Linked DNA regions of Homo sapiens: region 1 is linked to region 2. Evidence: fine-mapped expression QTL. A gene starts in region 2. The other region holds a variant in brackets. All regions are shown on one strand. Distances are between the middles of the regions.

Region 1 (4,369 bases), 280 kb before region 2:
CCCACCACCCAGCTCTCTTACCTCCATCCTTCCCAGCACCCCTGCGTCAGTCAGGCTCTCCCTGCTGCTGTGCCTCCTCCCCTCTCTATCCTTCACCTGCATTTCCCCAGCTGAATCGCACCTGCATGGGATCCTGGTGTCCTCTTCTCAGAGGACCTGAGCTCACACAGGAGACTCAGATTCAGGGCCCTGTTCCATTTCCTGGGCTGTGTGCCCTCTGGCTCCTTATGCCAAGGGCTGCCTCCCCACTTCTCTGGTTCATAGGCAGCATGGCATGGCTCCCCAGAGTGCCCCGGTTCGTGCCAGGCCCTTCATAAACACGTGCTGCTGCTTGTAGAGTGCCCACTAAGATCTGGCACCTCCTTTCACCTGTGTGAACTCCCCCAGGAGCCTCAGAGGCAGGGAAGACTTGTCCAAGGGACAAGCAGCTGGGCTGGGATGGCCATTGGCTTGCTCTCATCGAGTTCCCGGGAGGAGCTGTAGGTGGGAATGCTGAAAGCCATGTGCACGTGGCCCCCAGGCCCACCGTGCCCGTGAGCTGGAGGGTGGGGGACCTCCTGTCCACCTGGGGCCCACTGTGCCTGTGAGCTGGAGGGTGGGGGACCTCCTCTGCACCTGGGGCCCACTGTGCCTGTAAGCTGGAGGGTGGGGGACCTCCTCTCCACCTGGGGCCCACTGTGCCTGGGAGCTGGAGGGTGGGGGGCCTCCTCTCCACCCGGGGCCCGCTGTACTCATGAGCTGGAGGGTGGGGGGCCTCCTCCCCACCTGGGGCCCACCGTGCCCGTGAGCTGGAGGGTGGGGGGCCTCCTCTCCACCAGGGAAGGCTGCCTCCGCATCTCCCACACTCTCTTGCTGACTTCCCTGGAAGCTCTGTCCAAGGAAGTCCAGAAGGAGGAGGGACAGGCCATGTTTGTCCGTCAGTGGCAACTTCAGGTGATGATGGTGGTGGCGGACATGGGGACAGAAAGAGGCAGTGGTGATGACGGCAGGGACGTCAGCAAGAGGGGGTGAACCACTGGCCCAATCTGTGGGGACACGGCAGCAGTGGGACCTGGCTAGCACCCCCCCCAACCCCACCTGCCGGCTGCCTCTTGCAGCAGGAAATTGATTTCCGGCTTGCCAGACTCTCCTCTCTACGTTCCTGCATCCCCTCCAAGCTGTTCGCATTAAGTTCTGCTGTTTGAAATCCCCGCGGTGGCTTCCGTTTGCTGATTGAGTTGGCCTGAGTCAGGGCCAGGGCTTTGCTGGGAAGGCACCCAGGGGGTCTCGGAAAAAGGAACTGCAGGAGACCCCAGGGCACATGGTGGGAAGTGAGCAGCGGCTGTGGCCATCCTGCTCCAGCTGGTTCAGTGGCCTCGAGTGCCATGGGGAGCTCTGGTGGGCACCGGTGGGCTGTGGCACTGGTGCCAACTCCCCCTCCCACCAGCTCCCAGAGACCCAGCCCCAGCTACGGGTGAGCTTACAACCGATGGCCAGCCAACCAGGGTGCTGTGCTGGGCGAACCTGTGGGGCCTGGTGAATGGGCAGCGTGGAGCACAGGGGAGAGAGGACGAGGGGGTGGAGACGGCCTCAGATGGTCAGGAGCGCCGCAGGGCCCCCGTGAAGGAGGGATGAACCCTGGCCGCATCACTCCCCTCCCAGGCCTCAGCCCCTCTTCCCAGCCCACGGTCCTGGGTGGGCGTCTTCCGCATGGGAGGCCGTGGGCGCTGGGTTTTCACGACCCTGAAACTTGAGCCTGCCCTCGCTCTCTCTGAGCCTGTCATCCAGCAGGGAGCAGAGGAAGGCTGCAGAGCTGGGAGGGGCACCCTCTGTCTCAGGGTCTTCCTCCTCCTTCCTCCACCCGCCCCCAGCGCCGCAGGATCTGGAGGCGGGAGCCCCGCCCTCACAGTGTCCCCCTGGAGGGGACATCCCGCTCCTGCCCCCGCCCTGCAGAC[C/T]GCACACCGAGCCCCAGCCTCACTCCCCAGCCCCCGGGAGCCCCGAGCCAGGTCTGCCGTCGCCTCTGACCCCAGGCTGGGCCGGCCTCCTCGTCTGGGCCTCGGCTCGGAGGGTTTCCTGCCCGCCCGCTCCTAGCCTGGCAGGAAGCGGACACCTCAGAACAAAGGGACCGGCGGACAATGGCCATTGAATTGGGCCGGGGCGCTCGCGCAGGGACAGGCCGCCAGCTGCCCGCGCTGATAAGACCCTCCCCGCGGCGCCCGGCGCGGGGGCTAATGCCCGGCTCGGCCTTCCCTCCTTCGCGGCCTGGGCCTCGGCAGGTGCGGCCGGGACTCGGGACCGCAGGCCGGGAGTGGGAGGCTCAGCTGCGGCCTCAGGGGGCCGTGCCCGCCCCGCTGGGGACTAAAGAGGAGCCAGCGCCCGGGACCAATCCCAGGAGCGCACCGGGGAGCCACCCTAGCACCTGCCCCCCGACCCTGCCCCGCGGTCTGACCCCCCCTTGGATCTGGCCCCGCCTCTACCTCCCCCGACGAACTGAACCCCCTGGGATCTGGCCCTGCCCCTTGCACCTGACCCTGCCCGGAGATCTGAACCCCTAGGATACGGCGGGTCCCGCAGTCTGGGCCCTCTATGATCTGACCCCGTCCCTGCACCTGACCCCGCCCTGGGGTCTGGGGGTCCGGCCCAAGCCCTGGGCAGGCGGGGTCGGGGTGGGGGGCGAGAGTATGTGGGGGCCAGACTCTACCCAGCTGCCTGAGAGCCTGGCCCTTGTGCACGCCAAGGAAGCCGCGCTTTTAAGAGGGCGTGATGTTTGGTATTTCCCCAAAATGCACCAGACGTCATGACACTGGAGAGCCTCAGGGCTTGGCTGCGTTTCCTTCGCATTGTTTTGGACAGAATGACAGCCAGGGAGGGCTGGCCACGTGGCTGCAGCATCTCCTGGCTTTCTGCAGGGTTCGGTCACTTGCTGTCCCCAGGGGCAGCCTGGGCCTCATGCCTGTGTATGCGGCAAGGGGACATGGGGTGGGGGGGGTCTGCTCCAAGGAACATCCTCCCCAGCTGGGCCTCAGGGCAGGGCCATCGGGAGGGAGAGGCCACATTCCTGCCCACCCCCCACCCCCCTGGACTCTGCAGGACTGTCCGACAGCCTCCGAGTCCTCGAGGGCCATGTTTCCGGAAGACTCTCCTTGAAGACTCTACCTCCTCCCGAGGCCTGGGGCAGCTCTGTGTTGGCAGAGACTGAACCTAGGACCAGTGAAGAGGCGGCTCCCTGTCCCCCATCCCCAGGCCTGAGCACCCAGGGAGATCAGGAGTCAGCGCTGTGCTGGCTCCAGAGGGCTCAGGGGCACCACGTTCCCACTCGAATCTGGGAAGGCTTTGTGTGGGCAGGTGCAGAGCTGTCATTAGGGCAAGGGCCGGGAGGGGTTGGGGTGTCTCAGCGTTTTCCCGCAGCAGCCTGGCACCTGGCTGCCCCAGGATTAGATAATCACACAGGAGGGGTGTGGCACTGGGAGGGGTCAGGGGCTGGGGGCTGAAGGAGGAGCAAGAACTCAAGGTTTGGGGAAACTGAGGCAGCCCCTCTCTTCTGGGCAGGATGAGATAGCCCAGGCCCACTTTGGTCTTGGCAAGCCCCAGACAGACGTCCAGCCCATGGCACTTCTTGCCATCATCTCTACCAGCCACAGACCCCTCCCTCAGCAAGCCACTGGCCAGGACAGGGATGACACAAGGTGAGCAGAGTCAGGACAAAGAGACACTTGCCAGCTGCAGAGGTCCCAGAGCAGGTTCTGGCCCAGCCATGGGGGTGAGGGTGGCAAGGAAGGCTTCTTGGAGGTGGCACTTGGGTTGAGTTTGCCAAGGGAGGAGGTGACAGAGGAAAGGCGTGACAGGCAGGGACAGCGGGGCATAGACCCCAGTCAGGGGAAAGCCGGGTGCTGACAGGGAGGGCAAGGAGTCCCAGGGGCACAGGTGGGGACAGCAGGAGCTGAGGCCATGCTGGACCAGGGACAGGAGCAAGGCTCTGGAGTGGCAACCTGGAGGCGGTGGCAAGCCATGGCAGGGCAGGTGGATAGTGGTGACTGCTTATTTGCTGGGGTCCCCAGGAGTCAGGTCAGGTGGGGGTACCAGGGAGAGGGTGCTGGGGCTGTGACCAGAGCTCTAGGGAAGCTCCCCTATGCAGGTCCTACAGGACCACCTTGGCAGCGGTGGTGCTGAGCATGATCACCCTGGGCCCCTGCTGGTGGGCTGGGGTGGTGACCACAGTATGCCAGAAATGCTGGGGTGCTGCAGGCTGCCTTCTGGCTCAGGGGCTCTGAGCATCGTTGCCCAACCAGGGCCCCGCCATCCAAGGAGCCAGCCCCAGAGTGCCCTACCATGTGCTGTGAGCACCCCCCTCTCCTGGGTACCCCTGAACCCTCTCCGAAGCCTGGTCAAG
Region 2 (4,369 bases):
GGTGGAGACCAAGGCCACTGCTCTGCACCCATTGATCCTGACCCCTGCCTGCCAGGCCCAGAATAGCCCCGTCGCATTAGGGAGCTTCTGGCCGCTGCCCAGGGACTGCGGCTGGGGTGAGGGCAGTGCAGCAGCTGGCACACTCCTTGTCCCACCCCACCCTCCGTGTGTCTCCAGGGCACCTGGCCAGTGCCGAATGCCATTCCTTTGCTGCCACCCTGGGAGGGGCCTGCCTCTACCCCCATCCACTCTTCTGGCAGGGCTGGGGACCTTGGGGCAGGTGGTCTCCCTCCAGAAGAGCCCTGTGTTCAGCCAGCCCTGTCCTCCAGAGCAAGCCCCACAGGTAGCAAGCCCCACAGGTAGCAAAGTCAGGGAGGGTAATGGCTTAGCCCCAGGCTCCCAAGCTGGGCAGAACAGGGCAGGGAGCTGGAGAGGGTTTGGCAGTGGGCCCATGAATCCAGCCTGGGCAAGGCCCTGCTGTGAGGGACCCCTAGGGACCCCTGGGCCTGCCAGGGAGGAAGGGCTGCCCAGAAAAGGTACTGACTGATGCCTCCTCACCATCTTCTGCCTTGGCTGGCACAGGTCCCAAGTGCAGAGGGGGAGCTGGTCAGGCTGGTCAGTCGGGCGGGGGGGCGGGGGGCATGTTTCTGGCCTGCTGTCACCATGGAAATGGCAGTGGCTGCAGGGTGTGTGTGCAAGGGAGGAGGGTGCTGCCACAGAGAGCCCAGCCAGGACCACCATGAAAGCCAGGAGCACCGAGGGCCTCTGGTTGGCTCACAAACATGCCTGGTGCACCAGGCAGAGGGAACAGGTAGGTCTCCGTGTCCAGCCCACAGCCTCCAAGACACAGGGGGAAGGGTGTCCAGAGTCAGCTGCCCCCATAGGGCCTGATCACTGGGCTTCTGGGATCTGCCTGTCTCCCAGGCCGACGCTCAGCTGGGGCCAGAAGGCTCAGAGAAGGGCCCATGGGGACAGAGCACCAGGAAGCCCGTGGGTGCGGAGGTTCCCCACCTGGGGCCAGGCTCTACGGGGCTCTAGGGCGGAGGCACTGTGGTGAGGCGTGGTCAGGCACGCCCTGGTTGGGAGGAGGCCAGAGTGGGGGTGTGGGGGTGCGGTGACTGGCATGACCCCTCAATCTCCCGCCTGACCCCTCGAGGTCAGGCCCTGGGCCCCCAGGCACGCAGCTGGTCCTGGGCGGTGCGGGAGAAGGGACTGGAGTGTCAGCCCCAGCCCGGGGCACAGAGGGCACGCCCACTCCTTCCCCTCCTTCCCTTCCTAACTCCTCACCGCCTCCCCGGCCGCCCCCTGGGTGGAAGTGCTTGGGGTGGACGCCTTAAGCGCGGATCCCTCGGCGCTGGTGCCCGCCGCCCCTTCCCTGCCTGGGAGGCAGACGCAGACCTCCCCACACCCCCTACCAGCAGCTTCTCGAGCTGTTTCTGGAGGTGGCGGCGCCTTCCTTCCTGAGCCCTGCCCTCCACCCAAGGAGCCTTCAGCACCACAGACAGTGTTGGGGCGGGGCGCGGGCGGGGGCGGAGCGGGACATGGAGACCCGGACAGGGCTGGGGGCCGTGCCCGCCGGGAATCTGACTCCGCTCCCGCGGCGCGGCTGTTGCTATGGAAACCGAGCAACAAAGGGAAGCGGGACAGGCGCCGCGCGCGGCGGGGTGGGGGTGGGGTTCTCCCGGAGCCTGCGACCCCTTCCCGCGGCGGAGCGCAGCCTGGGCGCCCAGGGCCGGGAGTGTTGGACCCCTAGGCCCAAGTCACTAGGGCTCCCCGAGAGCCGAGGGCCAGGCTCCCCGCACCCTGCCCGCCGCCCCGGGGACGGCCCGGCCAGGCGGCCCCGACGTCGCCATGGAAACAGCCGGGGCGCGGGCGGCGCCGCGGTCGCCCGGGCGGGCCCCTGTAGACGCCACCTCCGGCGCGAGGGGCCCGGGGGCGCCAGGCCTGGCCCGGCTGCCCCGCACCCGCCACCCCCGGCAGGTGCGCCCCGCCCCCGCGGCGCCCCCAGGCGGCCCCCAGCCCGGGGGACGGGTTATCGAGGCCCCGCCCCGGCCGCGGAGCCAATGGGCGCGCGGACAGCCGGGCAGGCGGGGCTGGGCGCGGGCGGCGGCGGCCCGGAGGAGAACGGGCGGAGGGCGCGGGCCGACCGGGCGCACCGACCATGGCCTCCAAATGCCCCAAGTGCGACAAGACCGTGTACTTCGGTGAGTGCGTGCCCGCTCCCGGCCCGCTCGGTGCATCCCGCCGCCCTTCGCGGCCAGTCCCGCGCCGCAGAGCCGCGGCGTAACTCGGGGTGCGCCCGGCCCCGGCCCCGGACCGAGGATGCGCGTCCCGGAGGCTGGCTGGCCGCGCTGCCCAAGCGGCTAAAGCCAAAGGGTGGGGCTGCGCGAAAGCGGGGGCGGTCACGCCCGAACCCCGAAGCGGCTTGTGGGGGCGGGGCAGGGACCACCCGGGCGGGGCTTGTGGTGCCCCGGGATGAGGCCAGTGTTTGGGGGAGCGCTCGGGGATCCGCGGACGCATCCCGGTTCCTCGGACGGCGCCGGGCGGGGCGGGGCAGGGCGTGGCTGTACGCCCCGGGTGCGTCCCGCGCGCTCCCGTGGGCCTGGGCCCTTTCTCCTGGACCCCCTACACCCGCTTCCCCCGGGAACAAGTGGCCGGGAACAGTGACCCCCAGCTCCCACTCCGGGCTCCGCTGAGCTGGGCTGGGCCAGGTTTGGACTCTGTCGGGATTCAGTCCAAGCGGGGGCGACCTTGGCCTCTGCCTCCTGCTTGTCCCGACGCATTCCCTTGGCGCCAGTTCCCCCAGGAGTTTCACACGGGGGTAGGGTGGGGGCGGGTGTGACACGCGAGTTCCCGCGAACGTGAGAGGGACCTTGTGCTCAAGCAGCCCAGGTGTCCAGGATCCCTGCCTCCTCAAGGTCAGAACAGCCCTGGACAGGATGCAGGTGGTGGCGGGAAGAGGGATGTCTCGCAAGGCGGCCCTCGGTCTAGCCCCTCCGGCAGGCGCGCTCCCCCCGTCTGGGCTTACTCACTCTCTGGGCCTGGGTGCGCCCTTCCTACCCCCTTCCTCCTGGCTGATTCGCTGCCCAGCTTTCTCCAGGGTGGTAAGGTCCCTGCCCACCTACCCACCAGCTGCTGCACGAAGGGGGGCAGACTTAGTGAAGCAGAGAGGAGGGCCGGGACCAACAGGGCGCCTGCCCTGGTCGCCCCATACCCAGAATGCGGCCAGGCTGCAGGGAAGGCCGCCACTGGGCTTCCCCGGCTCACAGGCTGGAGGGGGTTGAGGGGAGGTTGTATTTTGCCCGTCCCAGAGGGGAGGGACCGGATTTGGCCTGGAGTGCTTCTGGCGTGGCTGGGAGCCGAGGGGCTTCCGGCTGCCTCTCCTGGAGCCCGCTCAGCCCTCAGTCTCTGTCCCAGCGAGGGCTGTCTCTGTAAGGCTTAGGGTGGGAGACGGTCCCCAGGGCCCTTCTGCAGTCCAACTGCCCATGACTTTACCCCAGGCCGGGCCAGGCCAGCCTGGGGCTCTCCAGGGTCTCGGCCAACAGTCCTGTGGACAGCCCGGAAAGGCCTGCCTGCCTGGCCCGCCCAGCCTCTCAGCGGAAAACAAAGGCGCTTCAGACCCGGCTGGCTTCTGTCCTGCCTGGGAGGCACTGTGAGGGCGAGGGTCCAGAATCCTGCCCACCCTCACACCAGGCTGCCCCCGCAGCTCATACCTGAGTAGAACCCAGGCTGGGATGTCGGAGCACATTGAGGAGGCCACCCCAGAGCCCATGCAGCCAGGGTGGGCAGCTGGTTTTCTTCTGAGCCATTAGACCCAATCGATTCTGTGTTCCCAACTCGGACCCGTAATGTGTGGCCATTGACCCACCCAGTGGGTCTGAGGGCCAGTTCCCTGCCCCCACTTGGCCCACGTCCCAGAGCTGGCCAGAGCACAGTGCTGGCAGCCCTGGGCTGCAGCTGCCACGGCCGATAGCCACCGAGACTTCCTTGCTGCTGCTGGGACACGCCTGCCCACCGTGCAGCCAGCCCCTGCCTGCCCTGGTGTGTCCCAGCTTCCTTGAGTGGAGTGGTTCTGGTCAGAGGGCTCTAAGCTGGTGCAGCCTTGTGGTTGGGCTGGTGTCCTGGAGGCTGGCCCTGGCCATGCCCAGAGGGTTGTACCAGGGCCACGGAGAGCCAGTATTCACAGCCCTCTACCTAGTAGGCCACCTGGGGGATCCCATCTCACTGCCAGGAGCAGCACCCTTGGGCCTCTCAGAGTGGGCTTCGCCCTAGCCAGATGCCCCTCCCCGATATCTGCCAGACAAAGGGGGCTGGGCCACTTGCTGAGAAAGGGAGCTGGGAGAGCCACTGGTCCTCGGCCACCTGAGGG

Which allele goes with the higher level. Alleles are on the strand shown, and positions count from the first base shown. SD is a standard deviation of normalised expression in the study named.
In carriers of allele C in region 1, the expression in left ventricle of the gene that starts at base 2,120 in region 2 tends to be lower than with T alone (moderate effect, 0.72 SD a copy in GTEx).

What was found. PIP is the estimated chance that this variant, and not a neighbour inherited with it, causes the effect.
Region 1: its variant is the best candidate, but not a certain one, in a credible set for the expression of CRIP2 in left ventricle (GTEx, PIP 0.55).

What each region holds. Positions count from the first base shown.
Region 1 is chr14:105,194,600-105,198,968 of GRCh38, forward strand. No RefSeq gene overlaps it. Among named protein-coding and RNA genes, the nearest start is that of NUDT14, 15 kb to the left of the region's middle. RefSeq lists enhancers at 1,281-2,062, 2,063-2,844. The variant C/T (reference allele first, on the strand shown) is at 1,935.
Region 2 is chr14:105,472,702-105,477,070 of GRCh38, forward strand. CRIP2 (cysteine rich protein 2) reads left to right here and starts at 2,120. Exons shown (of 8, transcript NM_001312.4): 1 at 2,120-2,204. The coding sequence starts at 2,162. RefSeq lists an enhancer at 562-1,094 and silencers at 1,123-1,172, 1,183-1,272, 1,363-1,512, 1,783-1,852, 2,033-2,142.